2 separate regions of the Homo sapiens genome follow, and region 2 is linked to region 1. A link means that fine-mapping ties the variant in region 1 to the plasma level of a protein whose gene starts in the linked region. Region 1 holds a variant in brackets. A gene starts in the other region. All regions are shown on their forward strands.

Region 1 (8,312 bases):
ATTGCTTCTCAAACTGTCAGTGGTGATTGACCAGTTTGATTTTATAAAATTTCCAATCCATCCCAAATGTAAAGTTTTGTAAAATATCGTAAAAATAAATGATTAAATGTATATCCATCAAAGGACTTGTATCTAAAATACATAAAGAACTCTCAAAACTCAACAGAAAAAAAATCCAAATAGAACTAGAAGACACGAACAGACAGTCCACCAAAGAGGATATGTGGGTTGCAGAAAACACAGGAAAAGATGTTCAAAATCATTACCTATTAGGAAAATGAATGTCCATTTCCTGGTTTGGGTATTGTATTATTGTTATATAAGATGTCATCATTGGAAGAATCTGGGTAAACAGCTCATGGGATTTTACGTACTTTTTTCGTGATTTCCTGTGAGTCTATTATTATTTCAAAATAAAAAGTTATCAGGCCAGGCTTGGTGGCTCATGCCTGTAATCCCAGCTCTTTGGGAGGCTAAGACGGTGCAGGTGCAGATCACCTGAGGTCAGGAGTTCGAGAACAGACTAGCCAACATGGTGAAACCCCGTCTCTACTAAAAATACAAAAATTAGCTGGGCGTGGTGTTACACCCCTGTAATCCTAGCTACTCGGGAGGCTGAGGCAGGAGAATTGCTTGAACCGGGGAGGCAGAGGTTGCAGTGAGCAGAGATTGTGACACTGCACTCTAGCCTGGGTGACAGAGCGAGACTTGGTCTCAAAAAAAAATAATAAAATAAATAAATAATAAAAATGAAATGAAAAGCAGATACATGAAATACAAGCCCAACTTTTAAATCATAGATTCAACAGGCAGAAAACAACCATGTCCAATTGCTGTAAGAGTTTCTAAACATTTACTCTCATTTTCTGGGCCTGTTGTGCTGAAAAACAGTGGCGAATCTCTGGCAGACCAGCACCGGGCCGTGGACCACACTTTGAGTGGCTGTGGACCACCTGCTCAGACGAGAAGCAAATGCCAGAGATGGAATTATTTTTTTTTCCTTTTTGGCTTATTTTTTTGTTATGGAGTTATACTGCTGTTCAAAATAAAACTTGATTTAAAATATACAGAAATAATAATACAGAAGAAAATCTATTTTCCCCAAGTCTGGGTTTATGGATAAAACACACCGTCTACTCTGATGCTGCCTTCTCTTTCTCCCTCTCACCCTCCCCTAACTTCACCTCTTCCATTCCTCTCTCTCCTCCATGTGCTTGCCTTAACTGCCCTCTTTTCCTAGTGGCAGGTCCCTGGCTCTGGTCCCACCACTTTGTCACTATTCCAGACCCTCCCCGACCTATACTGGGGAAATCACTTACCTTTCTGAGCATCAGTCTCCTTATGCGGGGTGACAGTGAGACTCACCTTGGAGAGCTATCCTGTGAGGAGTGGGTGAGGTCACTCAAATGGGAGAAGCTCTGTGAACCACGTATAAGTGTGCACACGCAGAGTGGACTCTGTCTGCACACCTGGGTCCCCACATGCGCTGGCTGGCTCTGGTCAGCCTCCCAGTCTTCATTCCCATCTCACCCAACCCTCTCAGGCAAGCCAGGTGTCTCTGCTTCCAACCAAATGCCCTTCCCAGGAGGCCTCCCCAGCCCACATCCTGGCAACACTCAACCAGTGCCCCTGTCCCTCAGAGAGGGGTGTGTCCTCCCTTTCTACCTAGGAGCTCTCCCAGGCCAAGGCAGTCCTCCCCAGGGTAAAAGCCAAGTCAGGTTGCTGTATTTTTTTTCTTTGCTATAGCCTCAGGCTATGCAAACTTTTCCACCTGTTATATATAACAGGTGGAAGATATATAATAACAAATACAGTAAGTTCTCACTTAAGTTGCTGATAGACTCTTGGAAACTGCAACTTTAAGGGAAACAAAACCAATTTTACCATAGGCTAATTGATATAAATGAATAGAATTCCTGTGACATATTTCTGGTGACAAAAACATCACCAAACTTCTAAAGATCAAAACACTTCTAATATTAAACACTGAAATGAATGTAAGCTATACATACATTTAAGAAAAATTAAGAAAAACAAGATAATTAGGCCAGGTGCACTGGCTTACGCCTGTAATCCCAGCACTTTGCAAGGCCCAGGTGGGTGGATCACCTGAGGTCAGGAGTTCGAGACCGGCCTGGCCATCTTGGTGAAACCTCATCTCTACTAAAAATACAAAAGTTAGCTGACTGTGGTGGTGGGCACCTGTAATCCAGCTACTCAGGAGGCTGAGGCACAAGAATCACTTGAACCCAGGAGGTGGCGGTTGCAGTGAGCTGAGATTGTGCCACTGCACTCCAGCCTGGGTGACAGAGCGAGACACTCTCTCGAAAGAAAGAAAGAAAGAGAGAGAGAGAGAGAGAGAAAGAAAAAAGAAAGAAAGAGAAAGAAAGAAGAAAGAAAGAAAAACAAGATAATTATTTACCCAATTATTCCAGTTCAGGGTCGTGGGTGGCTGGAGCCCATCCTGGCAGCTCAGGATGCCAGGTGGGAACCTACCCTGGACAGGACATGGTGCTCACACACCCACACTCACTCGTGCTGGGACCATGCAGACTCACCAATGAGCCTAGCGTGCACAGCTTTGGGACATGGGAGAAAACCCACGCAGACGTGGGGAGAATGCAAACACCACGCAGACAGTGGCCCCTGCAGGAATCGAATTTTTCTCTTACCAATGTCATGACAAAAAGACATGGAATGAAATGACGTTATTCAAGGACCTGCTGTATGTGAATACTGGCTAACTCAATGAGCACTTACTATGTTCCAGGGATGATCACAGGCCCTACCCATGTACTAACTCATTTAATGCTCACAACCATCCTAGGAGGTAGGTTCTGTTCTAAGCCCCAGTGTACAGATGTGGAAACAGGCCAGTGAGCAGAGAAATCACCTGCCCCAGGCCACCCAGCCGGTAAGCCCCACACTCTCATCCACAACACTGCCTGTGGTTGCTGGTTGGTTTCCTGCTGTTGTTCACCCAGCTCAGCGCCTGGCACAATGAGAGGCTCTGTAAGCCTTTGTTGAGTGAATGAATGCTGCCCATTGTCCTGCATCTACGGAGCTGTTTTCCTTGCTATTGAAGGGGCATGACTGGAGGCAGAGGCCACAGAGATGACCACACCAGGGCAACCTGTAGTGCCAGTGCCTGGTTCCACCCGGGGGGCATCTGAGAACTGTGTCCTTCCATTCCTGAGTCCAGCACTTCCCAGGCCAGGTCAGCACTTTAATTCCTTGGGAAGTCTGTTTTTATTTTATTTTATTCATTTTAATGTTTTAAAAGTTTTTAGAAATAGAGAAAGGGTCTCACTTTGTTGCCTAGGCTGGTCTCAAAGTTCTGGGCTCAAGCAATCGCCCACCTCCACCTTCCAAAGTGCTGGGATTACAAGCCTGAGCCACCACGCCCAGCTCTGTGTTTCTTTCTTTTTTTTTTTCCTTCCTTCCTCCTTCCCTCCTTCCTCCCTCCCTCCTTCCCTCCTTCCTCCCTCCCTCCTTCCTCCCTCCTTTCCTTACTGTCTCCCTTTCTCTCTCGCTCTCTCTCTCTCCCCTTCCTTCCCTTCCTTCTCTCCCTTCCCACCCTCCCTTCCCTTTCTTTCTTTCCTTTTTTGTTTTTGTTTTTGTTTTTGAAACAGAGTCTCACTCTGTCACCCGGGCTGGAGTGCAGTGGCGCGATCTCGGCTCACTGCAACCTCCGCCTCCTGGGTTCAAGCGATTATTCTGCCTCAGCCTCCCAAGTAGCTGGGACTACAGGCGTGTGCCACTACGCCCAGCTAATTTTTGGATTTTTAGTAGAGACAGGGTTTCACCATGTTGGTTGGCCAGGATGGTCTCAATCTCTTGACCTCGTGATCCACCCCCAAAGTACTGGGATTACAGGTGTGAGCCACCGCACCCAGCCTTATTTTCTTTTTCTCTCTCTCCTCTCTTCTCTCTCTCTCTCTTCCTCTCTTTCTTTCTTCTCACTGGAGTCTTGCTCTGTCGCCCAGGCTGGAATGCAGTGGCGTGATCTCTGCAACCTCCGCCTCCCGGGTTCAAGTGATTCTCCTGCCTCAGCCTGCCAAGTAACTGGGCCTACAGGCACACACCACCACACCTGGCTAATTTTTGTATTTTTTGTGAAGATGGGGTTTCGTCATGTTGGCCAGGCTGGTTTCCAATTCCTGACCTCAGGTGATCCGCCCACCTTGGCCTCCTAAAGTGCTAGGATTACAGGCTTGAGCCACCGCGCCCGGTCACTAAGTCCCCTTATTTCTATCTCAAGCCTAAGTTGTCAGGAACTCACTGAGTTCTCCCGTCTATGGAGGAAAGAGATCCATCTCACAGCTTTGCCACCTGAACACCCTGGGACAGCTGCCCAGGGGTCTGGGCTGTAGTCTAATCTGGTCAGTCTTCTTTCCTCCACTTGGATTTTTCTCAAATAGCGTCCCTTTCTCCCCAGACTAACCCATTTTCCTGAATTCTTCCGATTCTTTTCCACATCTTGTTCCCCTCTACCCCCTAAGTCTTCCTTCTCCCCTTTTCAGCTACCCATTTATTTGCATATTCATTGTAAATACAGTTATTTGAAGTCTTTTTCAGATTGTTCTATTATCTCAAGTTTCAGGGTCAGAAATTCTCCTATTGTGATGTATGCTGTCTGTCTGTTGCTCATGGTGACTCAGTTCCTGATGCATTTGATACTTTCTGATTGTGAGCTAAAGTTGGATATTTTTTTTTTTTCTCATGGTGGCTCAAGTGGCCTGGGTTGTAAAGGCTCCCTCCAGACACGATTTTTCCTTTGTCACCGTACTCCTGGCCAATGTAAGAATTCCTGTTTTTGTGGTGGTGGTTGTTACTGTGGTAAAATATAGAACATAAAATTTACCATCTTACCCATGTTTATGTGTCCAGTTCAGTGGCATTAAGTATGGACTTTCACAGCATTGTCACCATCACCACCGTCCATCAACAGAACTTGTTCCTCTTCCCAAACCAAACCTCTACACCACTAAACACTAACTCCCCATTCTCTCCTTCCTCCAGCCCCCGGCAATCACCATTCTATTTTCTGTCTCTATAAATTTGCCTACTCTAGCTAGGTACTGCATATAAGTGGGATCATGTAAGATTTGTTCTTTTGTGTCTGGCTTAGTTCACTTAGCCTAATGTCTTCAAAGTTCATCCATGTTGTAATATGTGTCAGAATTTCCTTCCTTTTTAAGGCAAAATAATAGTCCATTGTATATGTGATCGTACATTTTGTGTATACTACACTATTAGTTCATTCATTGATGAACATTTGGGTTGTTTCCACCTTTTAGCTATTGTGACTAATGCTACTATCAACACCGGTGTACAAATATATTTGTTTGAGTCCCTGCTTTTTTTTTTTTTAAGATGGAGTTTCGCTCTTGTCGCCCAGGCTGGAGAGCAATGGCACGATCTCGGCTCACCGCAACCTCCACTTCCTGGGTTCAAGCGATTCTCCTGCCTCAGCCTCCTGAGTAGCTGGGATTACAGGCATGTGCCACCACACCCGGCTAATTTTGCGCTTTTGGCAAAGACAGGGTTTCTCCATGTTGGTCAGGCTGGTCTCGAACTCCTGACCTCAGGTGATCCGCCCGCCTCGGCCTCCCAAAATGCTGTGATTACAGGCTTGAGCCACCGTGCCCGGCCAAGTCCCTGCTTTTAACTCTTTCGCGTATATACCCAGAAGTGAAATTTCTGGCTCATATGGTAATTCTGTGTTTAATTTTTTGAGGCACCGTCACACTGTCTTCCACAGTGGCTGCACCTTTTACATTCCCAGAAGCAATGTACAAGGGTTTCAATTTCTCCATATCCTTGTCAACACTTGCTATTTTCTGTTTTGTTTTGTTTCTTAATAATAGCCATCCTAATGAGTGTGAAGTGGTATTTCACTGTATTTCCCTAATGGTAAGTGATGTCGATCATCTTTTCATGTGCTAATTGGCCACTTGTATATCTTCTCTGGAGAAATGTCTTTTCGACAATGAATAATTGCATGAATAATTGCATAAATGAACAATGAATTTTCAAGTCCTTTGCCTATTTAATCAAATTTTTTTTTCTTGAGACAGGCTCTCCCTCTGTTGCCCAGGCTGGAGTCTGGAGTGCAGTGGTGTGATCTCGGCTCTCTGCAGCCTTGACCTCCCAGGCCCAAGCAATTTTCCCACCTCAGCCTTCCTAGTAGCTGGGACTACAGGTGCATGCCACCATGCCCAGCTGATTTTTGTATTTTTTGTAGAGATGAGGTTTCACCTTGTTGCCCAGGCTGATCTTGAACTTGTGGTCTCAAGCGATCGGCCCGCCTTAGCCTCCCAAACTGCTGGGATTACAAAGTGCTGAGCCACTGAATCGACTTCAAATTGTTTTGTTGTTGTTGTTGTTGTTGAGTTGTAGGAGTTTTAAAAATATATCCTAGATATTGGCCAGGTGTGGTGGTTCATGCCTGTAATCTCAGCACTTTAGGAGGCCAAGGCGGGCAGATTACTTGAGGTCAGGAGTTTGAGACCAGCCTGGCCAACATGGCGAAATCTTGTCTCTACTAAAAATACAAAACTTAGCCAGGCATGGTGGCGCATGTCTGACGTCCCAGCCTACTTGGGAGGCTGAGGTGGGAGAACCACTTGAACCCGGGAGGCGGAGGTTGCAGTAGCCAAGATTGCGCGAGTGCACTCCAGCCTGGGTGACAGAGCGAGACCCTGTCTCAAAAACAACAACAAAAAACCCACAAAATATATATCCTAGATATTAATCCCTTATCAGATACATGATTTGCAAATATTTTTTCCCAGTTCATGGGAAATTGTGTCTTTTTTTTTTTTTTCTTTTGAGACTCCGTCACCCAGGCTGGAATGCGGTGACTGGATCTTGACTCACTGCAACCTCTGCCTCCCAGGTTCAAGCAATTCTCCTGCCTCAGCCTCCTGAGTAGCTGGGACTACAGGCGCCTGCCACCACACCCAGCTAATTTTTGTATTTTTAGTAGAGACGGGGTTTCACCATGTTGGCCAGGCTGGTCTCGAACTCTTGACCTCAAGTGATCCACCCACCTTGGCCTCTCAAAGTGCTGGGATTACAGGCATGAGCCACTACACTCTGCCCCCGAAAGTTCTTAATTTTAATGAAGTCCAATTTATTTTTGTTTTGTTGCCTATGCTTTTGGTGTCATATCCAAGAAATCCTTGCCACATCCAATGCCAAGAAGTCCCCCTTATATTTTCTTCTAAGAGTTTTGTAGTTTTAGCTTTTATGTTTAGGTATTTAATCCATTTTGGAGTTAATTTTTTAATATACTTACGGTAAAGATTCAACTTCATTATTTCGCATGTGGACATTCCAGTTTTCTAAGTCTTCTTTAAAAGACTTGCCTTTCCCTCGTTGAACGGTCTTGGTACCCTTGTCTAAAATCATTTGACCATATGTGTAAGAGTTTATTTCTGGGCTATTCTATTCCATTAGTCTAAATGTCTGTCTTTATACTAATACCACACTATTTTAATTATTGTAGATTTGTGGTTACATATTAAAATCAGAAACTGTAAGACTTCCAATTTTGTTCTTTTTCAAGATTGTTTTGACTATTTGGGGTCCTTTGAGATTCCATATAAATTTTAGGATGGATTTTTCTGTTTCTATAAAAATATTATGATTTGCATTTCA[A/G]TAGGGATTGCATTGAATCTGTAGATTGCTTCAGGCAACATTGACACCTTAGCAATATCAAGTCTTCTAATCCATGAATATAGGATGACTTTCCATTTATTTGTGTCTTCTTTCACTTTGTTTGTCAACACTTGTGATTTTCAGCGTACAAGTCTTTTGCTTCCTTGGTTAAGTTTATTGCTAAGGGCCAGGCGCAGTGGCTCACACCTGTAATCCCAGCACTTTGGGAGACCGAGGCGGGCGGATCACGAGGTCAAGAGATCAAGACCATTTGGCCAACATGGTGAAACCCCATCTCTACTAAAAATACAAAAATTTGCCGGGCATGGTAGCAGCTATGGTGGGCAGCATGGTGGGCAAGTAGTCCCAGCTACTTGGGAGGCTGAGGCAGGAGAATCACTTGAACCCAGGAGGCAGAGGTTGCAGTGAGCCAAGATCATGCCACTGCACTCCAGCCTGGGTGACAGAGCGAGACTCCATCTCAAAAAAAAAAAAAAAGTTTATTGGTAAGAATTTTATTCTTTTTATTCTTTTTCATTGCTTTTATAAATGAAATTGTTTTCTTAATTTCCTTTTTGGATTTTTCATTATTAGTGTATAGAAACAACTAATTTCTATGTGTTAATTTTGTATCCTGCAACTTTGCT
Region 2 (8,332 bases), not on the chromosome of region 1:
TGTAGCATGAAATAGAAGCATAATGGGATGGTGAGAATAATCATTTAATTTATAATACCCAGAGGGAAATAGAGGTATCTATGGGAGGTGATATGCACAAGAATGACTTACTTTGAACAATCGTTAAGGAGAACAATTTGCTACTATATATCCACATTCTTAAAACCGTTTACAACATTTGATTTCACCTTTTCATCTCCAAGATGTGATCCTAAAAATGGCACAGAGACAGAGACAGAGACAGACTCCTCCACAACGATGCTCACTGCAGTGGAAAAATGGAAAGAAACAAAATGCCCAAGAACAGAGCCAGTGGAGAACAGTGACTCAGAAAAACACCTGGTGAGCCAGCAAGGTAGAAGGTGAAGTCACATGAGCAATTGATCACCACATGTCACGACATGAAATGAAGCAGGCTATGAAATACATGATGCGGAGAGAGATGCTCAGAACACACTGAGGGTTTTGTACCAAATAACAAGTCATCTTTGGATGGGGAGATTATGACAATTTTCTTCTTTGGACTTTTCCTCTTATTTTCTAAATTTTCTACAATAAAATATATGAGTTTTATAGCCACAAAGAAAGAAAGATTCTTTAAAAATGACACAACGCCTTGATACATTCAGCTCAAGCCAGGACTTGGAGTGGCACTTGTTCTGTTTCATTCTTCTGAGTAGCCTTCAGCTCGAAATCATTGTGGAAACCTAAACTTTTCCCCCCAAAAAGCCAGCCTTGTTGACAGCATTTTTACTCCCTTCATGCAGAAAGAGGGCTCCTGGGGTACTGGGGATCACTGGAATCTTGGGGATCTGGTTTCACTGAGTCACAAAGCAGGAGAGTCAACAGGGACAAGCAGGGCTGCATCCCAGGACAAGTGACATGTGCAAAATCCCCAAGTCTCCTGCAGCTCTAGAGCAGAGGCAGGAGATTGAACCACTGGGGGAGAGCCCAAACATGGTGACAGCAGAGAGCAAATTATTTAATTTTGAGATTATCCACTTGACAGTATCTCAGAAATAGCCTAATGCTGTCTCTCTCTCTCTCTCCCTCCCTCCCTCCCTCCCTTTCTGTCTCTCTCTCTCTCTCTCTCTGAAACTCAGTTTTCCTTCCCTGTAAAAAGAGGGGTTCTCCCATTTGGGTGACCATTAGAGTTATCCAGGGAGCTCATAGGAAACACAATCTAGGAGCCAGTGCCTCAGTGTCTTTACCTAGTCTCCCAGGTGAGAACCCAGGAACAATGACCAACCCAGTGCTGCTTTAATGTGCATATAAATTCCTGGGAGTTTTTTTTGTTTTGTTTTGTTTGTCTGTTTGTTTGTTTCTTTTTGGGACGGAATCTCGTTCTATCGCCTAGAGTAGAGTTCAGTGATGCAATCTTGGCTCACTGCAACCTCCGCCTCCCGGGTTCAAGTGATTCTCCTGCCTCAGCCTCCTGAGTAGCTGGGATTACAGGAGTGCACCACCACACCTGGCTAATTTTTGTATTTGTAGTAGAGACGTAGTTTCATCATGTTGGCCAGGCTGGTCTCAAATACCTGACCTCAAATGATCCGCCCGCCTCGGCCTCCCAAAGTGCTGGGATTATGGGCGTGAGCCACCGCGCCCAACCAGACAGCCTGTTAATTAACCTGCAGATTCTGCTTCAGTAGGTCTTTAGACTTACACGGAAGCTCCCAGGTGATGCCCACGCTGCTGGTCTGAGGTCCACCCCTGAGTAGAGAGGCTCTAAAGCTTTTTTCATTCCTGTCTTCTATTCTGCCACCAGCCTTCCTTCCCTTTGTGTCTTCCTTTCCTGCATTTAGTAACCCTGAGCTCCTGATGTGTGCAGGAGATTACACCACGACGCCAGAATGGGCTAGGATTTTCTAGATGGTACAGCGAGCCTTGAGGTGAAGCAGGCTGGCAGTATCCTTAGAAGTTGTGTCTCTTGGCTGGGCGCGGTGGCTCACGCCTGTAATCCCAGCACTTTGGGAGGCCGAGGCGGGTGGATCATGAGGTCAGGAGATCGAGACCATCCTGGCTAACATGGTGAAACCCCGTCTCTACTAAAAATACAAAAAATTAGCTGGGCGTGGTGGCGGGCGCCTGTAGTCCCAGCTACTCAGGAGGCTGAGGCAGGAGAATGGCGTGAACCCGGGAGGTGGAGCTTGCAGTGAGCCGAGATTGCGCCACTGCACTCCAGCCTGGGCGACAGAGAGACTCCGTCTCAGAAAAAAAAAAAAAAAAAAAAAAAAAAAAGTTGTATCTCTTTAGGTAAATTACTGCTCCTGGAAGGGTTATCCCATGATCAAGAGTTGGGGGTCTGGCCAGGCATAATTTCTCACACCTGTAATCCCAGCACTTTGGGAAGCCAAGGTGGGAGGATCACTTGGGCCCAAGAGTTAGAGACCAGCCTGGGCAACATAGTAAAAACTCATCTCTACTACAAATAACAATAATAAAATAAATAAATAAATAAATAAAGAGTTGGGGGTCCTCAGGATCTTAGGCAGGCAGAGGTATTGCCAGCTCTGCAGCTTGCTAAGTTCACTGTGAGGCTGCATAGAGTATAGGCTGGAGGAGCCTGTCTAGTGGAGATGGGGAGGACCTCCCACCCCACTGTTGTTTTACCATCCCCAGTTCTGCCTCCGGACAGTTTCTGAGAGCAAGTTTGTCTTGCCGAGTGGCCCAGAGGAGGCCCGGGGTCCCCTCCTGAGGACCCTCTCCCACCTCCCTTGGCTCCTCCCACTTGGCTGGCTGTTTCTTGCCTCATCTCCCTTGCAGCCCCCAGAGCAGCCCAGTTCAGTCCCCAGCGTTAGTAAAGAATGTTTTAAGAAAGATCAAGTTTAAGACACAAGAAAAGCCTGCATGGGTTTTTATAAATTTTGAAGCAAAATTCTTTCTTGGCCAGGCACAGTGGTTCACACCAGTAATCCCACCACTTTGGGAGGCTGAGGTGGGCAGATTGCATGAGCCCAGGAGTTCAAGACCAGCCTGGGCAGCATAGCAAAATCCTATCTCTAAAACAAATACAAAAATTAGTCGGGCATGGTGGCACTCGCCTGTGGTCCCAGCTACTTGGGAAGCTGAGATGGGAGGATCACCTGAGCCCAGGAAGGTCCAGGCTGCAGTGAATCATGACTGCACCACTGCACTCCAGCCTGGGCAACAGAGTGAGATCCTGTCTCAAAAACAAACAAATAAACCAACAAACACAGCCCCAAACCCAAGATTTTTCCTTAACACATGATACAGTGAAAAGGGCCTAGGGAAATGGTTCCCAAACTTGAGTATTAAAATGACCTGGGCAGCTTTTTAAATTGATGCTCTGTTCTCACTGCAGCCCAATTAAATCAGAGTGTCGGGGTGGAAGATGGGTGTCAGTGTTCTTCAAAATTCCCCCGGAGTTTCCACTGCACAGCCAAGTTTGGGAGCCCCTGGCAGGGAGAGAGGAATGCCTGGGTTCCTATCTCAGCTCATTCACAGGCTTGCGGTGAGACCCCAGTGGCAGCTTCTTCCCCTCCCCAGGCTCAGTTCCCTCATCTCAAAAACGATGCAGTCATGTAGCTCTGAAATTATTTTTAATTTCAAATTACTCACATAGGACCCAAGAATTAGAGACACTTATGAAATCTAATTGAACCCCAGAATTACTGGAAGGAAAAACAACTTAGATCTTAGAGAACAGAACTAGTGCTAAACTCATTACAATTTTCGCAAGCTCTCAGACTCTCATACTCTGCACATTGAATTGCAGGTAATAACATAAGGTTCCTAACTAGGTCACATTTACCATTCAATGCTATGTGGTAGAAGCACACGCATATTAAAATAGGAATACATATTCTCTTTTGCTTTTCTAGCCTTTATATATAAAACCAGTTACCTACCATTGTGATAAGCAGGACTCCTTATAGACAGGTACATCCAGGCAAAGCTGCATCAAACTTTTATACTGGAGAGGGCAACCACGCATTCGACATCATTGGGAATGATAACAAGGTGAGAACACATTGAGTGTTTACAGAGGGTTGACTATCAAAAGGAAAGTATGGTTTCAGATGATTTATGAGTTATTAATCAATCACATCTCCACCCAAGTTATGTGTTTACCTTGTCCCCACCCCGATCTGCATTTGCTGCTGACCTAAAAGAGCAGAGGAGGAGAGAACTTCTCTTTGCTGAGCCTTCGCCCTATGCTGGTGGATTGCTAGCACGTGATGTGTCCTTATTCGATTTTATACACAAAGAAACAGCCTCAGCGATGCCAGTCACAACAGCCAGGTGGTAAAGGTGGGTTTCCTGAAGGCATAAGAATAGCCCACAGGTCAGCCCACCAGGCCCACCGGGCCTGGGTCTGTGGCCCAGATGACCCTGCCCTTAGGGTCTGACATGAGAACAGAAATGGGTCAAGCCATCCTGCAGGGCACAGGAGAGCAAGAACTACATACAGCTCGGGGTTCCCTGACAAGCTGAATTGCTGGACCTTTCTAGAGCCCTTCTTGAATCTGTAGTCTACTCCCTGCTGCATCAAGCAAGCCTTGTTTCTCTTTGTTCCACAGTGGTCTCCTCCCAAACAACCGCACCTGCCCTCATCATGGCTAGGATGGCCTTTGGGGAATGGCAACAAGCAGAACCTCCTAGGGTGCTGGAGGGACTTACTACTTTATCTGTTTGCTCTGCCACCACAACAAAACACTGCAACTGGGTGGCTTTGACTAAAGAAATTTATTTGCTCACAGTTCTGGAGACTAGAAATGTGAGGTCAAGCCATTGGGGAAGGCTTGTTTTCCTCTGAGCCCTCTCTCTTTGGTTTGCAGATGGCCATGCTCTTGCTGCCTCTTACATGGCATGCATCCCTGGCATCTCTCTCTGTGTCCAAATTTCCTCTTCTGATAAGGACACTAGCTGTATTGGATTAGGGTCCACTCTAACTATCTCATTTTACCTAAGCCACCTCTTTAAAGGCCGTGTCTCCATTACAGTCACATTCTGGGATATTGGGGGTTAGGGCTTAAACCAATGAATTTTTAGGGGATGCAATTGAGCTCATAAGACAATTTTATCCCAAAAAGTCCCCTCACTCCTCGCCACAGCTTGCTACAGTTCCTAAAATTTAACCTGAGATCCCTCTGCCCACAGATGAGAGTTCATGCTCCTAACCAGGGGATCCTTGAAGCTCATCTGAGCTGGCCACAGTGGCCCTTTCCAGCACCATCCTCTACCCTCCCTAAAATCAGCCTCACCACCCCTAACACAGCTTGAGGTCACTCTCCTGCTCCTTAGAAGAGCTGTAGTGCTGTCTGGCTGCCTCCTCACTCACCAACGGTGCCACACACTTCTGCCTTTACCTGCATAAGTTAAGTGTTCATCGACTCTAAGTTCCAGGAAATCGGGGCACATTCATCATGCACTGTAGCCCCTTGGATTCTTTTAAAACTCCAAGTTTGAAGAACTTCCCACAGTGTGAAGTGGGAAGTTCTGCCTTACATTGAGAGGAACTAGGATTTGCTGCCCTCACCTGCTTACCTCCAGGGTACAGGCACAAACCTCGGCTCCACAAACACTCTCCTCTCAAAAAGTCCTCTTCAGAGAGGGTCCAAGGACACTGGCATCATGCAGAATCTCCCTAGGAATGATGGTGTGGAGGGTTCTGGCTCTTAGGGCAAGGGTTTCTTGGAGTCCAGTGTGCAGTGTCAGTGCATGGGGGCTGTGACTGTGACTGGTAGCAAGGTGGTCTTGCTGGAGCCAAGCAGCAGTGTGGTTTCAGTGCTCTACCTGAACTTGTGCCAAGAAAGCCTGTGTCTCTGGCCGTTAGTAGAGGCTTGAATTCTCTAACAAATCTCTTTCCACCTCAAATGACCTAGAGTAAATTCTATTGTTTGCAGTTAAGAACTTTGTGACCCAGACAGTGACTGTGACCTATTCCTGTCTGTGTGCCTTCCAGTGACCAGCAGGGTGCCTGGTGCAAAGCAGCTGCCCAGAACAGGATTTCACCTGGGTTATCTCAGGTATTCCCAAGTAGAAAGTATCCTGGCAAGACCAACCCATATCACTGCTGAAATGAGCTCATCTACTGCTCCCCAGGGGTTGAGAAAGGGATGCTCAGAGCAGGTGTGGCCAGCTGCCCACAGGGAGGAAGGCAAATGAAATGAGCAGTGCTCTCCGGGTGTGTGACAGCCAGCTCTGTCCAAACCTGCCTGATCAGTTTTCAGTGTTGATCCTACCTCAACTGTCATCCTTATAGATGGAACCAACTTAATTTCTTTTAATTATTTATTTTTCTTTTTATTTATTTTAATTTTTTTTAAAGACATAGTCTTGCTCTGCTGCTCAGGCTGGAGTGCAGTGGCACCATTATAGCTCACTGTTACCTCCAATTCCTAGATTCAATTGATCCTCCCACCTAAGCCTCCCAAGTAGGTGGGACTACAGGAGCGTGCCACCACACCCAGCTAATTTTTAGATTTTTTTTGTAGAGACAGGGTCTTGCTATGCTGCCCAGCCTGGTCTTGAACTCCTGGGCTCAAGTGATGCTCCTGCCTCCTCCTCCCAAAGTGTTGGGATTACAGGCATAAGCCACCATGCCCAGGCTGATTATCATTTTAATGGCTACATTTTATTCCATGGAATGATATGGACCATCATTTATTTGGTCAGGTACCTCTTGTTGAACACTCAGGTTGTTTCTGACTTTTTTTTCTATAATTAGAAACACTGGGCTGGGCATGGTGGCTCACACCTGTAATCCCAGCACTTTGGGAGGCCGAGACGGGCGGATCACGAGGTCAGGAGATCGAGACCATCCTGGCTAACATGGTGAAACCCCGTCTCTACTAAAAATACAAAAAAATTAGCCGGGCGTCATGGCGGGCGCCTGTAGTCCCAGCTACTCGGAAGGCTGACGCAGGAGAATGGCGTGAACCCGGAAGGCGGAGCTTGCAGTGAGCGGAGATCGCGCCACTGCACTCCAGCCTGGGCGAGAGAGCGAGACTCTGTCTCAAAAAAAAAAAAAAGAAACGCTGTTGAAATCCAGGTCCTTCAGATAAAAATTTCCCACACTTATACTAATTTCTTTAAGATAAATTCATAGAGGCCGGGTGAGGTGGCTCGCACCTGTAATCCCAGCACTTTGGAAGGACGAGGTGGGTGGATCACGTGAGGTCACGAGTTCGAGACCAGCCTGACCAACATGGAGAAACCCCGTCTCTACTAAAAATACAAAATTAGCCGGGCGTGGTGGAGCATGCCTGTAATCCCAGCTACTCCGGAGGGTGAGGCAGGAGAATCACTTGAAACCGGGAGACGAAGGTTGCTGTGAGCTGAGATCACGCCATTGCACTCCAACCTGGGCAACAAGAGCGAAACTCCATCTCAAAAAAAAAAAAAATCACAAAGGTAGAATTTCTGGGTAAAAGAAAATTATAATTCTCTTAGATTATCACCTGTTACTATGATATGTGGGAAATGCTTTGTCTTAATTTATTTTTCTTTGCTAATTGGCAAGATTAGACCTTTTTTTTTTTTTTTTTTTTTTTTTTTGAGACGGAGTCTCGCTCTGTCTCCCAGGCTGCAGTGCAATGGTGCAATTTCAGCTCAGTACAAGCTCCACCTTCCAGGTTCACGCCCTTCTCCTGCCTCAGCCTCCCGAGTAGCTGGAACTACAGGCACCCTCCATCACACCCGGCTAATTTTTTGTATTTTTAATAGAGACGGGGTTTCACCATGTTAGTCAGGATGGTCTTGATCTCCTGACCTCGTGATCTGCCCCCCTCGGGCTTCCAAAGTGCTGGGATTACAGGCGTGAGCCACCGTGCACAGCCTAGACCTTTTTTTGTATATGTATTGACCAATTGTTTTTCTTCTTTTGTGAGTACCCTGTTCACTCATGTCCTTTAGCTATTTTTCTGTTTGGGTTATTTATATTTTTCTTCTGGATTAGTTAAGGCTTCTAATATTAAAGATATTAATCTTCAAGTGTCACACATGTTAAAATATTTCCCTGATTTTTTTCATGGTCAGCACACCCATTCTGGAGTTAGAACTAAGGAATGAGAAATTTTCCTCATTTATATTTTTACCTCTCAAATGATATGTTTTGACATGTAGAGATTTTAAACTTTAACTGACTACAGCCACACTATCCCCACCTGTGGGTCAGCACTACAAGCCCCAAAGAACACCTCAAGATCCATGGAGTCACACAGCCCTTGGGCTGATGCTGTGGCAGGAGCTGCCATTCATTTCCAGGGTTTTTTGTTTTGTTTTGTTTTTTGTTTTTTTCTGAGACAGAGTCTTGCTCTGTCGCCCAGGATGGAGTGCAGTGCTGCAATCTCAGCTCACTGCAACC

Alleles and levels. Positions count from the first base shown, and alleles are read on the strand shown. Strength reflects both the effect of a copy and how common the allele is.
With allele A in place of G in region 1, the plasma level of the protein whose gene starts at base 3,907 in region 2 is higher (moderate association).

What was found. A credible set is the group of variants that fine-mapping cannot tell apart. PIP is the chance, under the fine-mapping model, that this variant and not a neighbour inherited with it causes the effect. Protein levels are from antibody-based Olink assays in UK Biobank. Linkage for the fine-mapping came from a reference panel and not from the study's own genotypes, which makes the PIPs less certain.
Region 2: MSMB starts here. The variant in region 1 is the best candidate, but not a certain one, in a credible set for the plasma level of the MSMB protein (UK Biobank, PIP 0.59).

What each region holds. Positions count from the first base shown.
Region 1 is chr6:36,945,188-36,953,499 of GRCh38, forward strand. It overlaps a transcript of PI16 not described here. Among named protein-coding and RNA genes, the nearest start is that of PI16, 5.4 kb to the right of the region's middle. The variant A/G (reference allele first, on the strand shown) is at 7,666.
Region 2 is chr10:46,042,363-46,050,694 of GRCh38, forward strand. MSMB (microseminoprotein beta) reads right to left here and starts at 3,907. Exons shown (of 4, transcript NM_002443.4): 1 at 3,873-3,907. The coding sequence starts at 3,875. RefSeq lists an enhancer at 1,856-2,357.